Homo sapiens: one gene and its partner. The protein of the gene in region 2 interacts with the protein of the main gene of each other region in a pairwise test. Each region holds a gene or a part of one and is shown on either strand. Other genes may lie near its edges.

Region 1 (7,964 bases), on a different chromosome or scaffold from region 2:
TACTTCTCCTGCAAGAGAAACGCACCACTTTATCACGGGAACTTCACAGGATGGCAGACCAGGCACGGAGGCTCACGTCTGTGATACCAGCACTTTGGGAGGCTAAGGCAGATGGATCACTTGAGCCCTGGAGTTTGAGACCAGCCTGGACAACATGGCGAGACCCTGTGTCTACTAAAAATACAAAAAACTAGCCAGGCATGGTGGCAGGCACCTGTGGTCCCAGCTACTCAGGGGGCTGAGGTGGGAGGATCGCTTGAGCACAGGTCGAGGCTACAGTGAGCCAAGACTGTGCTACTGCCCTCCAGCCTGGGTGACAGCGACATCACGTCTCAAAAAATGCTTCAGAACACCTCCTGGTAACCTTAGGACACTGCCCGACTGACAAGGCTGAGAAGGCAAGGTGAGCAGAGCCCGGCGGGTGTGCGCGTGTGGAAGAGGGAAGAGAAGCCAGCGTCCGGGATGAGCCACACATCCGCCTTCCCGCACCGGCCTGGAGAGGACGACAGGGACGGAGCTTCCTTTTCATTCACATGGTTTACATTTCACATTATGGAGGTAACAGCAATGCAGGAGACACAGAAAAGAAACCGCCACAGCTGCAGCCTCACAGCAAGCACGGGGAGGAGGGGCACAGGGACCAGCAGCAGGGGAGGCCACCCAAGCCCCTGCAGGCAGGCAGCTGGTCACCTCCTCTCGAGATGGAGATGGTCTCCCTTCCGACCAGCACTGACCAGGGCAGATGGGGTGGGGGCGGGGGGAGGAGAATGCAAACCCAGCCACGGGGCCAACAGTTAGCAGGAAAACACAGGGCGGCAACAGCGGGGTCTCCACACAGCCCCGGCCCTTCTACCGCAGCCGCACCAGGAGGGCCTCAGGGCAGAGCTCTGACAGAAGCTGCTGGTGCCCACGCACAGGCTCAAGACCACCGCGCCTCACCCCCGAGGTTCCCCACCCGCTATGGGCAGTGGTGTCGGTGAGTGACTCTTCAGCTGGTAGAGCTGCACCAAGCGGGGGTCTGGTAGATGCCAAGATGGTTTCTCACTAATCTGTTCTTCCCTTCTGGCGAAAAGAATCTGAGAATGTTTTAAAATATTCCCTGTGTTCCCACCAACATTCTCAATCCTAAGAAATCTCCCTCTGCCTCCTACGAGGGAAGCAAAGTTAACACTTCTAAGGAGACCTTTAAAACAGAGGAAGTACAAATTGTCATAAGCTTTTAGGTTACCTATTAAAACGAGTTTTAATGTTCTAGCTATTTTTCCTACAAAGTACGAAGCATTTAAAGACAAAAATAAGGTCAGTCAGCCGAGCGCAGTGGCTCACGCCTGTAATCCTAACACTTTGGGAGGCCGAGGTGGGTGGATTGCCTGAACTCAGGAGTTCGAGACCAGCCTGGGCAACACGGTGAAACCCCATCTCTACTAAAATAGAAAAAATCAGCCGGGTGTGGTGGCGGGTGCCTGTAATCCCAGCTACTGGAGAAGCTGAGGCAGGAGAATCACTTGAACCCAGGAGGTGGAGGCTGCAGCGAGCCAAGACCATGCCACTGCACTCCAGCCTGGGCAGCAGAGCAAGACACTGTCTCCCAAAGAAAGAACAACAGGCCGGGCGCGGTTGCTCACACCTGTAATCCCAGCACTGGGGGAGGCTGAGGCAGGTGGATCACCTGAGGTCAGGAGTTTGAGACCGGCCTGGCCAACATGGTGAAACCCCGTCTCTACTAAAAATACAAAAATTAGCCAGACGTGGTGGCACATGTCTGTAATTCCAGCTACTTGGGAGGCTGAGGCAGGAGAATCGCTTGAACCCGGGAGGCGGAGGCTGCAGTAGTGAGCCGAGATCGCACCACTGCACTCCAGCTTGGGTGACAGAGTGAGACTCTGCCTCAAAAAAATAAAAATAAAAAAATAAGGTCAGTCCTTGCAGCACAGCTCAGAAGAGCTCCACCTCGTGTGGGTTCTGGACTCCAGGGTGCAAAAGGAGTTGAAAACTCTCAACGTCCCTCCTATGGGGATTGGTAAAATGATTTATGGGTGACACCCACGCAATAGTATATTTTACACCTATCAAAAAGAATGAGGCCGGGTGTGGTTGGCACATGCCTGTAATCCCAGCACTTTGGGAGGCCAAGGCAGGAGGATCACTTGAGCCCAGAAGTTCAAGACCAGCCTAGGCAACATCGTGTAAACCCCCTCTCTACCAAAAATACAAAAATTAACCAAGCATGATGGCACAGGCCTGTAGTCCCAGGTACGGGAGACTGAGGCAGCAGAATCGCCTGAACCCAGGAGGCGGAGGTTGCAGTGAGCCGAGATTGTGCCACTGCACTCCAGCCTGGGCAGCAGAGCAAGACGCTGTCTCTCCCCAACCAAAAAAAAAAAAAAAAAGAATGACAGGCCAGGCACAGTGGCTCACGCCTGTAATCCCAGCACTTTGGGAGGCTGAGGCGGGCAGATCACGAAGTCAGGAGTTTGAGATCAGCCTGGCCAACATGGTAAAACCCCATCTCTACTAAAAATATAAAAATTACCCAGGCATGGTGGCACATGCCTGTAGTCCCAGCTACTTGGGAGGCTGAGGCATGAGAATCGCTTGAACCCGGGAGGCAGGGGTTGCGGTGAGCCGAGATCGCGCCATTGCACTCCAGCCTGGGCGGCAAGAGCGAAACGCTGTCTCAAAAAAAAAAAAAAACAAAAAAAAAACACACAAATTGTCAAAATCAGGAATGAAAGCAGGAATATCATTACAGATCCAGCAGACATTTGGGGGGTGGGAGTTCATACTAAGTTTTAAAACTATACAAATTCCAAAAATAAAATACAGGAGAAAATTTTTTGACCTTGGGATAAACAAAGATTTCTTAGATGGGAGACAAAAAAGAATGAAGCATAAAAGAATCTATTGGACTTCATTAAAATTAAAAATGTTGGCTCAAAAGATACTGCTAAGAAAACCAGAGGCCGCAGAATGGGAGGCGCCCTGCAGGAGGCGGCCTCTCACCAGGGACTGGGCTCCAGCACCTCCTTTCAAACGGCTGGCTCCACCGCGTGGGCTGGCTCCACCGTGTGGTGTGCCGAAAGACACGGACCAGCTGGTGTGCCCACGCCTTCCCAGCAGGAAAGCAAACACCACAAGCACCGGGGAAGGGGAGTTTGGCAGTTTCTTTAAAAGTCAAACACACCTCCCGTCCAGCCCGGCCACTCCCTTCTCCTGGGTGTTCACACGGGGCTGCGGCTGGGATGTCCATCCCTCCAAACGCATGCTCAAATCTGATCCCCAATTAATGGAGGTGTTTGGATCATGGGGGGAATCCTTTGTGAACGGCTTGGTGCCCTGCTCCAAGTGCGAGTTTTTGCTGTTAGTTCCCACAGGATCTGGTTGTTTAAAAGAAACTTTTGCCTCCCCCACTCTCTCCTTCCTCTGGCCACATGCTTCACACCCACCAGCTCCTTTCGCCTTCTGCCATGAGCAGAAGCAGCCTGAGGCCTCACCAGGTGCAGACGCCCAGGCCATGCTGCTTATATAGCCTGCATAACCATGAGCCACATAAACCTCCTTTTATAAGTCACCCGGCCTCAAGTATTCCTTTATAGCAACACCACACAGACTAAGACACCCAGGAAGTTAATACGCATCCACTGTATTTATAACTAGTATCAACAAATAATCATGACCAGAAGTGCTTAGGGATCCATTTAGTAACACGTGCAAGACCTTGAACACGCAAATTTCAAAACACTGCTGAGAAAAGCTAAAGACATTCATAGATGGAAAGCTCACAGAAACACTCAATGTTAAGATCGCAATTCTCGCCACATCAGTTATCACAACAGTCCCAATCAGCAGCCAGGCTAGCTTTTCTGATAGAAGTTCACGAGATGATTCTGAAAACGGAAATGTAAAAGGCTTAAAACAACTAAAACCATTTTGAAAAAGAACACTGGAGGATTCACACATACCAGTGCCAAGACTCAGCACAGAGTTACAGTCATCAAGGTGCTGTCCTCGGACACCGTGGCAAGTCATAGAGACCAACGAAACAGAGCAGAGACCAGAAGCAGACTCGGGCATAGAGGGCCCATTCTTTTCAGAAAGGTGCCAAGGCAATCCAGGGAGGAAAGGACAGTCCTTCGACAGACAGCCCTGAACACCTCGGGATCACACTGCGAGAGGGTGAACCTCTACCCTCACCTCGCACCACACACAAACACCATCTTGAAAGGGAACACTGTAAATTGTTTGTAAATATAAAAGCTAAGACTTTAAAACTTCTAGGAAGAAACACAGGAGAAAGTCTTTGTGAGCTAAGGGTATGCAAAGATATCTTAGAAAGGGCACAAGAAACATAAAAGAAAAATTGAGTAGGCCGGGCGCAGTGGCTCACATCTGTAATCCCAGCACTTTTGGAGCCCAAGGTGGGCAGATCACCTGAGGTCAGGAGTTCGAGTCCAGCCTGATCAACATGGAGAAACCCCATCTCTACTAAAAATACAAAATTAACCGGGTGTGGTGGTGCATGCCTGTAATCCCAGCTACTCGGGAGGCTGAGGCAGGAGAATCGCTTAAACCCAGGAGGTGGATGTTGCGGTGAGCTGAGATCGCGCCGCTGCACTCCAGCCTGGGCAACAAGAGTGAAACTCCGTCTCAAAAAAAAAAAAAAGAAACAAACAAAAAATAAGTAAATGGAACTTCACCAAAACTATAAACTATTTTCCAAAAGACAATGTTAAGAAAATGAAAAGGCAAGCCATGAGCTGGGAGAGAAAAACATCTTTTAAATATATATCTCAGCTGGGCGTGGTGGGTCACGCCTGTAATCCCAGCACTTTGGGAGGCCGAGGCGGGTGGATCACGAGGTCAGGAGATCGAGACCTTCCTGGATAACACGGTGAAACCCATCTCTACTAAAAATACAAAAAATTAGCTGGGCGTGGTGACGGGCACCTGTAGTCCCAGCTACTTGGGAGGCTGAGGCAGGAGAATGGCTTGAACCCGGGAGGCAGAGCTTGCAGTGAGATGAGATCACACCACTGCACTCCAGCCTGGGCGACAGAGCAAGACTTTGTCTCAAAAAACAAACAAATAAATATATATATGTATATACACACACACACACACACACACACACATATATATATATATCTCACAAAGACTTGTTTCCAGATGATATAAGGAACTCTTACAAGAGCAGCCCAACAGGCCAAACCCAATATTTAAAATGGACAAAAGATTGAACATAAACTTCATGAGAAGGCATCCAAAGGCCGACACACATGAAAAGATGGTCACATGGGGAAATCCACATTTTAAAGGCAGTGAGACGCCACCACAGGCAAGTTAGAATGGCAAAAATTGGAGAGACCGACAACACCAAGCAGTGCTGGCACAGCATGGAGGCCCCGGAACTCAAGCATTGGTGGGGGACTGTAGAACAGTACAACCATTTTTGGAAAACGGTTCACACCTTTAACCACACAACACAGCAATTCCACTCTTAGGTAGTATCCAAGAGCAATAAAAACATGTTCACAAAAGACTTGTACACAAATGTCCATAGCAGCTTTATTCAAATAGCAAAAAACTGGAAACAGACAAATGCATAAACAAATTGTAGCATTTCCACACAATGGGCTACTCAGAAGCAAAGAGCGTGGCTGACCCTCACCAACATCAGCGGGGCCGAGAATGCCACAGAGATGACGGAGCAATGAGATTCTGTTCATGGGAAACTAGAAAGTGACCTGAGGTCACAGCAGAGCAACAGCTGGCGGGGACGCCACATGGGAGGGACACAGGAGCCTTTGGGGTAGTGGTAAGTTCCACATCTGGACTGTGGAGGGGATTACACAAGTGCAAACATCATCAACATTCCTCAAACTGCAATCTGTCCACTCAAGACAGACACACGGGCCAGGTGACGTGGCTCACGCCTGTAATCTCAGCACTTTGGGAGGCCAAGGCAGGCGGATTACCTGAAGTCAGGAGTTCAAGACGAGCCTGGCCAACATGGCAAAACCCTATCTCTACTAAAAGTAGAAAAATTAGCTGGGCGTGTTGGCTGGCGCCTGTAATCCCAGCTACTCAAGAGGCTGAGGCAGGGAGAATTTTTTTTTTTTTTTTTTTTTTTTTTTGAGACGGAGTCTCGCTCTGTCACCAGGCTGGAGCGCAGTGGAGCGATCTTGGCTCACTGCAACCTCTGCCTCCTGGGTTCAAGCGATTCTCCTGCCTCAGCCTCCTGAGTAGTTGGGATTACAAGCGTGAGCCACCACGCCCGGCCAGCAGGGAGAATTTCTTGAACCCGGGAGGTGCTGGTTGCAGTGAGCCGAGATTACGCCACTGTACTCCAGCCTGGGCGACAGAGGGAGACTCCGTCTCAAAAAAAAATTAAAAAAAAAAAAAAGATGAGTATTTATGATTCATCTGATTTAGAGTTGGAATTTGCATGAGTAAATACTGTAAAATAATGTTAACCTCTACTCTAAGAAATTGAAAAAGATGCTCAAAAAACCGGGTGATTTATTTAAAACAACCCTGTCAGAGGCAGCGACTCTCACTCCACTCAGCAGAGGGAGCCCACGCCTGAGACCACCCAGGCGTGCGTGCTTGTGACACCGTTTCCAGTGAATTCGGGGAAACACACCCCTGGAGAACCCCGTCCTGCTCCTGGCAGACTTTGGCCCAGCTGGCCTGGGCTACGCCATGGAGGCTCACGTGGGGCCACCGTGGAGATAAGAGTCCTTTGGACACAGAGCCACGTTCTGTGGCCTGGAGAGCCAGCAGAGCCACGTGCTGCCAGCCTGACCCTACTGCTCAGAATGTGGGAACAGGCTGGGCGCTTTTTACACACGCAGCGTCTGAGGCCTACTCCAGACCCTCCGAGGCAGAGGGATCTCCATAGAACCCCTGGGTTTGCCGTGCAGGGCGAGCTGGGCCACACTGGCCTGAATCCCAGGCCTGCTCTCTGGGCTCAGAGTGTGAGTGTCTACCCACTCTGGCGACCCCGCTGTGCACAGCGGCCCTGAGCAGCCCACAGGAAGGCACTGCGCAGTGACGGCCCCACTCACCTTGGCCCAGGCCAGCTTCTCCCGGATGGCGGCATTGCCGGGCTCCACGTGGCGTGCAAACTTGAGGTTGTTGATGGTGTACTCGTGGCCACAGTAGACTCTCTGAGGAGAGAGGTGACAGGTGAGCTCGGAAGGCTGTTACCACCTGTGAAAGTCCTCAGGGACGGGACCTGGATGCCCCCGGGGGGTGTCCGGTGAGAGGGTGCCAGGAGGGAGAGCAGCCCCGCCCTGGTTAAGGCCCCCCACACCCCGGCCCGCAGGGAGGCGCTGCCTACTGTGTCCGGGGGGAGCCGGCCCAAGACCTCCAGCAGAGCTTTACACATCTCATCCGCAGTCCCTTCATAGAACTTCCCGCAGCCAGCCACAAACAAGGTGTCACCTGGAAACAAGGACAGCCACGAGGTGGGGGCCACTTGAGGCTGGTGGCTAGGACTCAGGAGGGGGCCAGGAGCAGGGTGACACTCACCGGCAAGGCCCAGGCCCCGAACCCTGGCTGCCCTCCGGCCACGGCTGCCCAGACTCAGCCCCCCTGCATTCCGGCTCCCACATCTCCTTCCAAGTCTCAGCTGACAGTCCAACCACCCAACTGGCCGAGCAGACCCGAAACCCAAGTCACTCCTCCCTCACTGCCCCCAATCCCACCAACTGTGGCTCTGAGACCCTCACAAATCCAGCCCTCTCCCCAAACACGCAGCAGCCCCTCTCAGGCCCATGCCTGGCTCCCATCTTCCCTTGGCCCCAGCAGCCAGCGCCACCCTGTGACCAAGGTCTCACCACCCTGGCTGAGCTGAGCGGGACCACCTCTCACCCATGGCGGAAGATGCGGCCCACACCGCTGGGCACCTCAGGCGCACCCAGGCTCCTTCCGGCCTCGGCCTCAGGACGGCATCCCCACCC
Region 2 (8,820 bases):
TCAGGCCTCCCTGCCACGGGGATGCTGCCTTTTCTGCTCCGGGTGTTTCCACGAGGCAGGCATGGAATCTTCCCTGGACAAGCGACATACCGTGGAGAGACAGGTAAGAATTTCTACACATAGGAAGGGTGGAGCAGCCATGGTCTTAGATGTGAGCCCAAGGGAAGACAGCCTGATATATTTTACTGGGCCATATTTGAAATTTCTGCACAGCGGAAGACACCATACAGTAAACACAGGAGCCTGCGAGAGAACCTCTGCCGAGCACCAGTGAACGGCCAAGTGACACGAGTGACACCATGAGCTTGGTGCCCTCTCCATCCCAAGCCAGAGGCGGAAGCCAGGCCCTTCCTCCCAGCCCAGACTCCTACATCCCAAACTTGAGCCATGGCACACATGCTGGGCACTTACTCTGTGCATAGCAGAGGGAGCTGAGCTGCATCCAGAAACAGACCTAGGAGCTCACAGACCCAAGGCCTGGGTCTCCACCCCTGGAAGAGGGTGGTGCCGAGAGCAGGGCCCCCGGCTGTCACTGGCCCGGAGCTCACCGTGCAGGGGCAGCCCAGGCCCTCCGGGGATGGCACTGGGGTGTCGGAGGCCAAGGAGCAGAAACAGCTGTGGATGCTTCCCTCGGAGGACTGGGTGGGGCCGGGACCACCAGGACCTGCCCACCACCTTCTCTATGGGGCATCTGGCTGTGTCTGGGAGTATCTTGTGGAAGGGTCCTTTTTACCATGTGGGATCGGTGGTCCAGACTTGTCTGGGAGCCAAGGATACCAGGCATGTCAAGTAGGCTCTTCCAGAAGGTTTTCCCTCCTGGGATGTCTGTGTCTCTGCCCCTCTCCTGCTGCCTGCATCAGGAAGGGAGGGAGCAGATGGGCTGGTGAAGTGAGCAATGTCAGTCACATGCATGGACTGTCCAGGGCTCATTCTGTGCTGAGGGTCCTCCCGTGAATACGTGGCTCACCAGCGTCCCACCCCATAGAGAAGGTGGGGGGCTGGCCCTGGCAGCCAGGGCTGGAGTGGGAGGAGGTTGACCAGGAGCATGGGGGTGAGGGAGAAAGAGAGAGGGACCCCACTGTGCTGCCCTAGCACAAGGGACACTGGTCTTCCTGATTCCTGGCCTTCCACGAGGTGGGACGCCCCTCCTTCTCTGGGCTCCTTCTCTGCCCCGCGGGGTGGTGGATGCAGTAGGGACCTTCCACCTCAGGACCTCAGGAGCCGCATATGTGGTACACAGTGGGCCTCCTCGACAGCTGCTCATGAGCAAACAGGCCCAACTCCTTCTGGTGGCAAAGACACAGACACACACAGACACATAAGCACACACAGACAGTGACAGGACAGAAAGGAACCTTCCCCGGGGTTTCCCAGACACACCCAGATGTCTACCTCAGCTCTGCCCCAAGTCAGAGGATTGCAGCAATTCTTACCGTGAAGAGTGCTGGGGAAACCACGTCATCAACCCCGATCCTCTCGTTTTCATTTCTGGGTTCTGACAACAGCCCCAGCTCCACCCCTTGAAACAAGTGACCGAAAAATGGACAACATGTAGTCACTCTGGGCAAAGAGGCCACCCCAGTGGGGGTATGGGGGACAGAGGGCCCCACCCTGGGAGGACAGCACTGTCCCCTGTCCAAGGGCAGGTGCAGCCACCTCCTCCACCTCCCTATTCCCCCCACCCTTTGTCCCCCCCGCCCCCCCGAGCTTGGCCCCTTTGCTTGGAGAGATCCTTTGGTTTTTTCGATCACTTGCTTCTAGGCTGAGGAGGGCGGGGCTGTTGTCAGAGCCCAGAATCAAAGCCAGAGGAGCAGGTGGACGCTGAGACTGTCCCCTCACCCTGCTCCACGGGCAATGTTGAAGTGGGCATCTGGGTGTGTCTGGGGTATCCCAAGGAAGGGTCCTTTTCGTCATGTCACTCTGTTGGGGGCGGGGCACAGGAGCAGGGAGCCCTTTCTCTCCCGAGCTCCTCAGACTCCCAGCTTCCCTGGGTCTCATCTCAGAGCTTTGCCTATGACCTGGGAGCCCTGTGGGTCCAGGGGAGGGGACTGGACGCAGCCCCATGACAATGCTCAGACCTGGGCTAGGAACTGGAAGCCTGTGGTTCCTCTGGGCTGTAGGGGTTGGGGCCCCACAGTGATGGCAGAGCCAGGACCTCATACACAGCAGCATGGACTCCAGACCCGAGCGGGACCTCCGTTCTGGTCCCAGGGTGACCTGGGCTGAGTGGCCCAGCAATCAGGGACCACTTCAGGGTCCCTCTGCACTGGTCTGTCCCTCTCACCCAGTCTGGACCCCTGTGGGGCACTTGCCCTGTCCCCAGTTTTCCTTACAGGGGACCTGGGCAAAGCCCAGGGAAGCTTGCACCTGTTAAGGAGGCCATTCTCCTGCCTCCCCCTTGGGGATCCAGTTTCTTTCTCTCGCCTTGGACCTTCCCCAGGATCCTATGGAAACTCCAGCAAGACCTGGTATTTTATCACATTTTCACAGTTATCGCATTGATTGTTCAGCCAACATTCCAGGGACAGAAATGGGGGAGGGGCTGTCCTTCCCCAGGAAAGGGTGGAATCTCCTTCCGTCTTCCTTACAGTTGGCCTAGGGAAGGTGCACACTCTTAACCACCCCTGGGTTCCCCTGATGCCTTGAAGACCCTGCCTTGCCCTGGCTGCAGGGGGACCAGGAAGGGGCCAGTTGTGTCTGGGACATTCCTGCCGGGAGAGAGTCAGGCCCTAGTGCACAGAAGGATGTGGGTGTGGTCGGTGGGGGCACTGGCAGGGGGTAGGGCACATAAGTCCCTGGGGAGCTCACTCAGAGGTTCCAGGTTGTGGCCCTTATGGAAGTTCCTGGGTCCAGGGGCTAGAGTGAGACTGTTCCCCGCTCATGTCTGGGCTGCAGACGCCCAACCAGTGGCTCCCCCTGTCCACCCTTGGCAAGGGAGGGTCCTGGCCTCCCTCTCTGCTAGTGGGGACCCCCCAACACCCTGTCTTCTCTCCTCTCTGGAGCTCTGCCTGGGTGCATGGCTTGTACAGTGAGTTACTGAGAATTGAACTCTGGACAGTAGCTGGGCCCCACTTTGCTTTAAACATTTTAGTCTGAGGCCTTCTTTGTCATCAGATGAGAAGGTTCACAGATGTGCAGATGTGCTGATAGTCTAACCTGACTGGTTTGTAAAACTAGAAAGAGAAACAGACAATGTGCCTGTTTCTGTGATGGGCCATAAAGTGGATCTTACAGATTTGGAGACATTCTGGAAGATCTGGACCTGTCTGGATCAGAGAGGGGAGGCAGGCATGGGCCAGTCATGAATCCAGTGGGGCTTGGGCCAGCTGGGGCAGCAGGGAGGAGGACGTGCCCAGGGTGGGTGAGCTGGGGAGACCCTGGAACCCAAGGCTGAGGACCCAGAGCCAGGAGATGCAGGAGACGCCCCAGGGATGCTGAACAAAGCGCTGTCCCCTGTTGCAGCTCTCCTGGGTCTCCCCATAGAAAGCTCATGTGGGGGCTGTCCTGACCATGGGTCCAGGGGTGTATTTGCTCCAGGGGCATTTGATGCATTATTGAGCCAGGGGAAAGGCCATCACACTCTGGGCAGCAGGAGCCACCGGGAAGGGTTGGGGAAGGGTTGGATCCTCCCAAAGTTGGTACAAGTGTGGTCTCTGGCCCAGGTGGGCTGTGGGTACTGCGGGGCGTCCAGCTGTGCATGCCTCTGGTGTGAACTGGGAAGGGTGGCCTCTGGTCAGACTCACACAACACACCAAGATGAGCTCACACCAGAACCACCTGAGACTCAAATGGCAGTTGACTGCCCCCAGGGGACATCTTCTTGACTAGAAGAGTCCAACATCTGGAGACAGAATGGGAGGGGTCCTCACGGCAGAGAACAGGGCCTCTTCTAGTCTGTGGCGCCCACCAAAATGGCAGGGACACTGTGCTGAGGTGGGAGGATTGCTGGCCAAAGACAGGGGGGTCTAGTAAGAGCCAGAACAGGGGAGCAGGCAGGACAGGGGACAGCCCCTGGGCCCACAGGGCCAGCACCTTCCAGGGGCAGCTGTGCTGGGTGTAGCAGGTGGACCTGGGAAAGGACGGCGCCAGACCTGCCGCCAGGACTCAGGGGCTCACTTGGGGCAGGAGCACAGTGTCCCTCACATTTCTGCAGGGCCCAGAGGTGGGAGAAAGGGCACAGGGTGGCCCTTCTGACAGGGGGGTGGGGGTGTGTCCCTGCTGGGGACTCTGTTTCCTGGGAGGGCCTGGATCTCTAGGTACCTTTCAGAGCCTTTAGCATCTCCTCTGGGTAATGGGGATGAAAACACTCCTCCCTCTAGTTTACAATTATTAGATACACTGATGCATAGGAGGATGCAGGACCTGCTGGTCTCCCATCTTCACAGCCAGGGAAGAAGATGCAGGACCCTAACAGAGAGCACAGGATGCAGCAGGTGCCAGGGAGCCTGGACCAGGCACATCCTGCACTGGCCACAGGGGAGGACACAGGGGTGGCTGTCCTGGAGCCTGCTCTCTGGACCGCTGAGTGTTATTCAGGGTCTTTCTCCAGGGTGTGGACACCTGTCTTCTCACCTGCCCCCTGGTCTCCTGCCTTCCAGATTCCTGTGGCCCACAGGGAGCAAAGTGTGGCCAGCTCTACATCCCCATTGTCACTCCACAGTGTCTGGTGGTTCAGTGGTCAGAGTGGGCACATCAAAACCAAAGCTTGCCCAGAGGCATGGCAGAGAACTTCCTTGTTCTGACGCTAATGAGGGTGGCACACTCGGCCTGAGCTGGAGAAGGGGTGGGGCAGGGTATCGCTGACTCAGCAGCTTCCAGGTTGCTCTGATGATATATTAAGGCTCCTGAATCCTAAGAGAATGTTGGTGAAGATCTTAACACCACGCCTTGAGCAAGTCGCAAGAGCGGGAGGACACAGACCAGGAACCGAGAAGGGACAAGCACATGGAAGCCAGCCCAGCATCCGGGCCCAGGTATGGGAAGCCCCTCCGAGCACCTCTGCGCCTCAGCCTCCTCTTTGAGCTTTTCTGATGAGCACTCACCTCTCACCCTCAAACCCCTGGGGCCTCTCTTTTCCTCCTGACCCTCTCTCTGGACCTGGCCTCTTGCTCTAGGTTCCCAGTTTTGGTCCCAGCGCTGGTCTCTCCTCCGATGGTACCAATTCCAGGTCTCCTTCCACCTCCCGGGGCAGGTGCACAGGGAGCCTGAAAATCCCAATAGATAATGGTGCTGTGCCCCAGCCAGTGAAGACGGTCAGAGAGGGGATTCTCCTCACTTGTCTTTAAATGAGCATCTACTATTTCTTGCAAATGTTCCATGTATCTGGACTTGGCCTAAGCCCTTTTTATGTTCAGTGTCATCTCGTTCTCCCTAATATTAAGAAAAGGGGGTTGCTTGTAGGACTGCTTGGCTATGAGGAAGCCTTGTTTCCTTTTTTTGAGAACACAGAGCAAGTGAGTGGTAGAGCCCAGATTCATGCCCAGGTCTACTCGAAATGGTGGGGAACATTTTGAACCTTCCTTCCTTCTTTCCTTCCTTCCTTCCTCCTTCCTTCCTTCCTTCCTTCAATTCTCTCTCTCTTTCTTTCTTCTTTCTTTCTCTCTCTCTCTTTCCTTCTTTATTTCTTTTTCTTCTTTCTCTCTCTTCCCTCCCTCCTTCCTTCCCTTCTGTGCTTCCTTCCTTTCTTCCAATATTTCCCTTTCTCTCTTCCTCCCTTCCTTCCTTTCTCTTTCTTTCTTTCCTTCTTTCTTTCTTTTTCTTTCATTCTTTCCTTCTTTCTTTCTTTTACTTCCTTCCTCCCTCCTTCCTTCCTCTCTTTCTTCTTTCCTTTCCTTCCTTTCTTCCTTCCTTCCTCTCTTTCTCCCTTTCTCCCTCCCTTCCTTTCTTTTTTCTTTCTTTTCTTTCTTTCTTCTTTCCTTCTTTCTTTCTTTTCCTTCCTTTCTTTTTTCTTTCTTTCTTTCCTTCTTTTTCTTTTCCTTCCTTCCTCCCTCCCTCCCTTCCTTCCTTCCTCCATCTCTCTTTCTCTTTCTTTCTTTCTTTCTTTCTTTCTTTCCTTCCTTCTTTCTCTTTCCTTCTTTCTTTCTTTCTTTCCTTCCTTCTTTCTCTTTCCTTCTTTCTTTCTTTCTTTTGTGCTGCCTCCCAACAGAGATTTTTCTAATTCTGATTATGTCAGGATGCATAGAGAGGGGCTGGGAGAGGTCTTCAAGGTGGGGCTGGTGTTTCCAGCCCAGGAGTCCTGAGCTGCCCCATCTCAATTGCCTGAGAAGCACATTTGGGAGACCTCAGGGCACCCTAAGGGATGTGGAAAATCCTATGAATTACCCGAAAAGAAGTCCCTGGCAGGTTCCTCTCCCCAGTCATCCCCCTCAGGAGTGTCCCTGTCCCGATGCTCGGTGTGGTAGGAGTTAACCCTGCAGGCAGGAGGAAGCCCCAGAGGGTCCATCTCCAGCAGGGGCTGTGGGTGAGCAGAGCCAGGACAGGGGTGCATGGTGAGGCCACAGAATAAGACCCAGCTCTACCCCAGGGAGAGGAGCAGGGTCCTCCTCGGAGGGCCTGAGCACACTGAGCTGACCCTGGGGAGACCCTGACAAGGCTTAGACAGGCCCCAGGGCTGCAGTGATCTCCCAGTGAGCCATAGAAGGGGTCAGAGGGGGAGGTTTGGAAGTGTGCTAAGGGATGTGCGGAGCAGGGGGAAGGAGGGTGGGGTGCAAGGGAGGAAGTGTGGGGAGGGAGGAGGAGGCAGGGCAGTCCAGGAGGGCTCTTCCTCCTCTGGTCTTTTCCCTGGCTGTCCACAGACACTTGATGGATCCACACATATTCACTTCCAACTTTAACAATGGCATTGGAAGGCATAAGACCTACCTGTGCTACGAAGTGGAGCGCCTGGACAATGGCACCTCGGTCAAGATGGACCAGCACAGGGGCTTTCTACACAACCAGGTGACCGACCCAGCCATCCGAATCCGGGCAGGGCCCTTCCAATCCAGGGACATTCATAGGTAGAAGGTTCCGGATTGTACTTGTGGTTTCCTGCAGTGTTTGTCACTTGTGCTTCCTGCAGCTGCTGCTGCTTGGCCCTGGGGTTGGGGGGAGACTTCGGCTTCAGTGACTATCCATGCCCAGGTGGGGTTGAGTCTGCCCAATGGCAAAGTGCTTCCTGAGGACCCTCCCAGGATCCCCTCACAGACACAGCTCTCACCAGGAACAATTCAGCAATGTGGGATCTGAGGACTCAGGGCCTACCTGACCTCACAAGGCCAGGATGCCCCAGTGCCCTCTCCTGGGCTTCATCCTGCACGGAGAGAGACTGAGGCAGGAGAGGCTGACCAGGGATCCTGTCCTGCCCAGGGTGGAGCCCACAGCAAGGCCAGAACAGGTCCCATGTCAGGATGCAGGGATGTCCAGCATTTGGGGAGGAGCTGGGCCAGGCCAGGCTGAGGGGCCCTGAGCCCGGGGGACTTTCTTCCCTGGCCCCTACCCAGCACAGCCTCTGTCTGGAGAGACCAGGTAATGCTTGGCTCCGGTGCTGGAAACTGGGACCTTCTCTGGGCTCTATGAGCTCAATGTGGGCCTCGCTGGATCCACACACACTGCTTGGAACATCCTTTCAAGGGTGCCAGTCTCCATCACCGCCTAAGCAGTGGGACTCCCCCAGGAACGACCCACAGCCCCTTCTCAGCACAAACCATGTCATCCACTCCACCCTGCATCACTGCTGATGGAGTCCCTCCCTGTCTTTGTCCCCATCACAATCACAGTCCTTGCTGCCCTGCTGTCCCCAACTTGACCGATTCCTAGTCTTAGTGGAAAATCCTTTTCTCTGGAGTTTGGAGTAAATACCATATTTCTATAAGTCAAAATAATGACAATTATACCATGTCACAGGGACCTTCCCACGTTGGAGTGAGTCCTGCTGGTCTTCTCTTCCCCACTACTTTTGGTGGAATTCATTTTGGCCTAAGTCTATATCACATTTGGGCTCAGCACAGGTTGTGGCACAGAATAGAAGCTTCTAGAATTATGGGCCACAGATGGGATGGGAGTAGGGGAGTTGATGAGTAGAGCAGGTCAATCTCCCCTTGAAGGAAGCACACTCACTCAGGGCCATCAGGCCAATGACCTCGGGGCTCCGCCGGCCCCTCCTCCCTGCCCCCATCTCTGTAGCCCCTCCCTGCAGGGCTGGGTCTGGGGTGAGGGTCCTGAAGGCTCTGACCTTGGGTACAAAATTGATGGGGGCTCCAAATGCTCAGTAATTAGAGAAAACACATTTTAATTTAATAATTAATGCAATATTTTAAAACGCAAATTTAATACAAATAGATCATGATGAATAAAAGCAAAGATTTTAATAAAGCCTGGCAGGAGAGTGCTGTCCTGTGTATAGTGGAGCTGGGGCAAAATAAAACCTCATTGCTCCTGATCTGTTTGTATTTAAATGGGCAACATTTTGCTTATCTTGGGATTTTTGCATAACATCTGATATTTTTAATATTGCATAGAAAATCATGCATCCTAATAACCGGGGTTTTGGTGACCCCTCTAATTTCGTGCTGGAGGCCCCCGCCTCCCCAGCCCCACCTGGTCCAGGCGCTCCCTCCCTGTTCACCACACATCACCTCACACTCTGTTTCCTTTTCTAGGCTAAGAATCTTCTCTGTGGCTTTTACGGCCGCCATGCGGAGCTGCGCTTCTTGGACCTGGTTCCTTCTTTGCAGTTGGACCCGGCCCAGATCTACAGGGTCACTTGGTTCATCTCCTGGAGCCCCTGCTTCTCCTGGGGCTGTGCCGGGGAAGTGCGTGCGTTCCTTCAGGAGAACACAC

Evidence for each region.
Region 1: the proteins of APOBEC3A (region 2) and HAGH interact in binary tests that used the Homo sapiens proteins (3 or more experiments, as listed by UniProt).

What each region holds. Positions count from the first base shown.
Region 1 is NC_000016.10:1,809,826-1,817,789, forward strand, and holds part of HAGH (hydroxyacylglutathione hydrolase, mitochondrial isoform 1 precursor), read right to left. Parts: intron 7,447-7,964; coding exon 7,343-7,446; intron 7,170-7,342; coding exon 7,068-7,169; intron 9-7,067; coding exon 1-8. UniProt on the Homo sapiens protein: Thiolesterase that catalyzes the hydrolysis of S-D-lactoyl-glutathione to form glutathione and D-lactic acid.
Region 2 is NC_000022.11:38,952,748-38,961,567, forward strand, and holds the start of APOBEC3A (DNA dC->dU-editing enzyme APOBEC-3A), read left to right. Parts: upstream 1-4,861; 5' UTR 4,862-4,944; coding exon 4,945-4,973; intron 4,974-6,794; coding exon 6,795-6,939; intron 6,940-8,639; coding exon 8,640-8,820.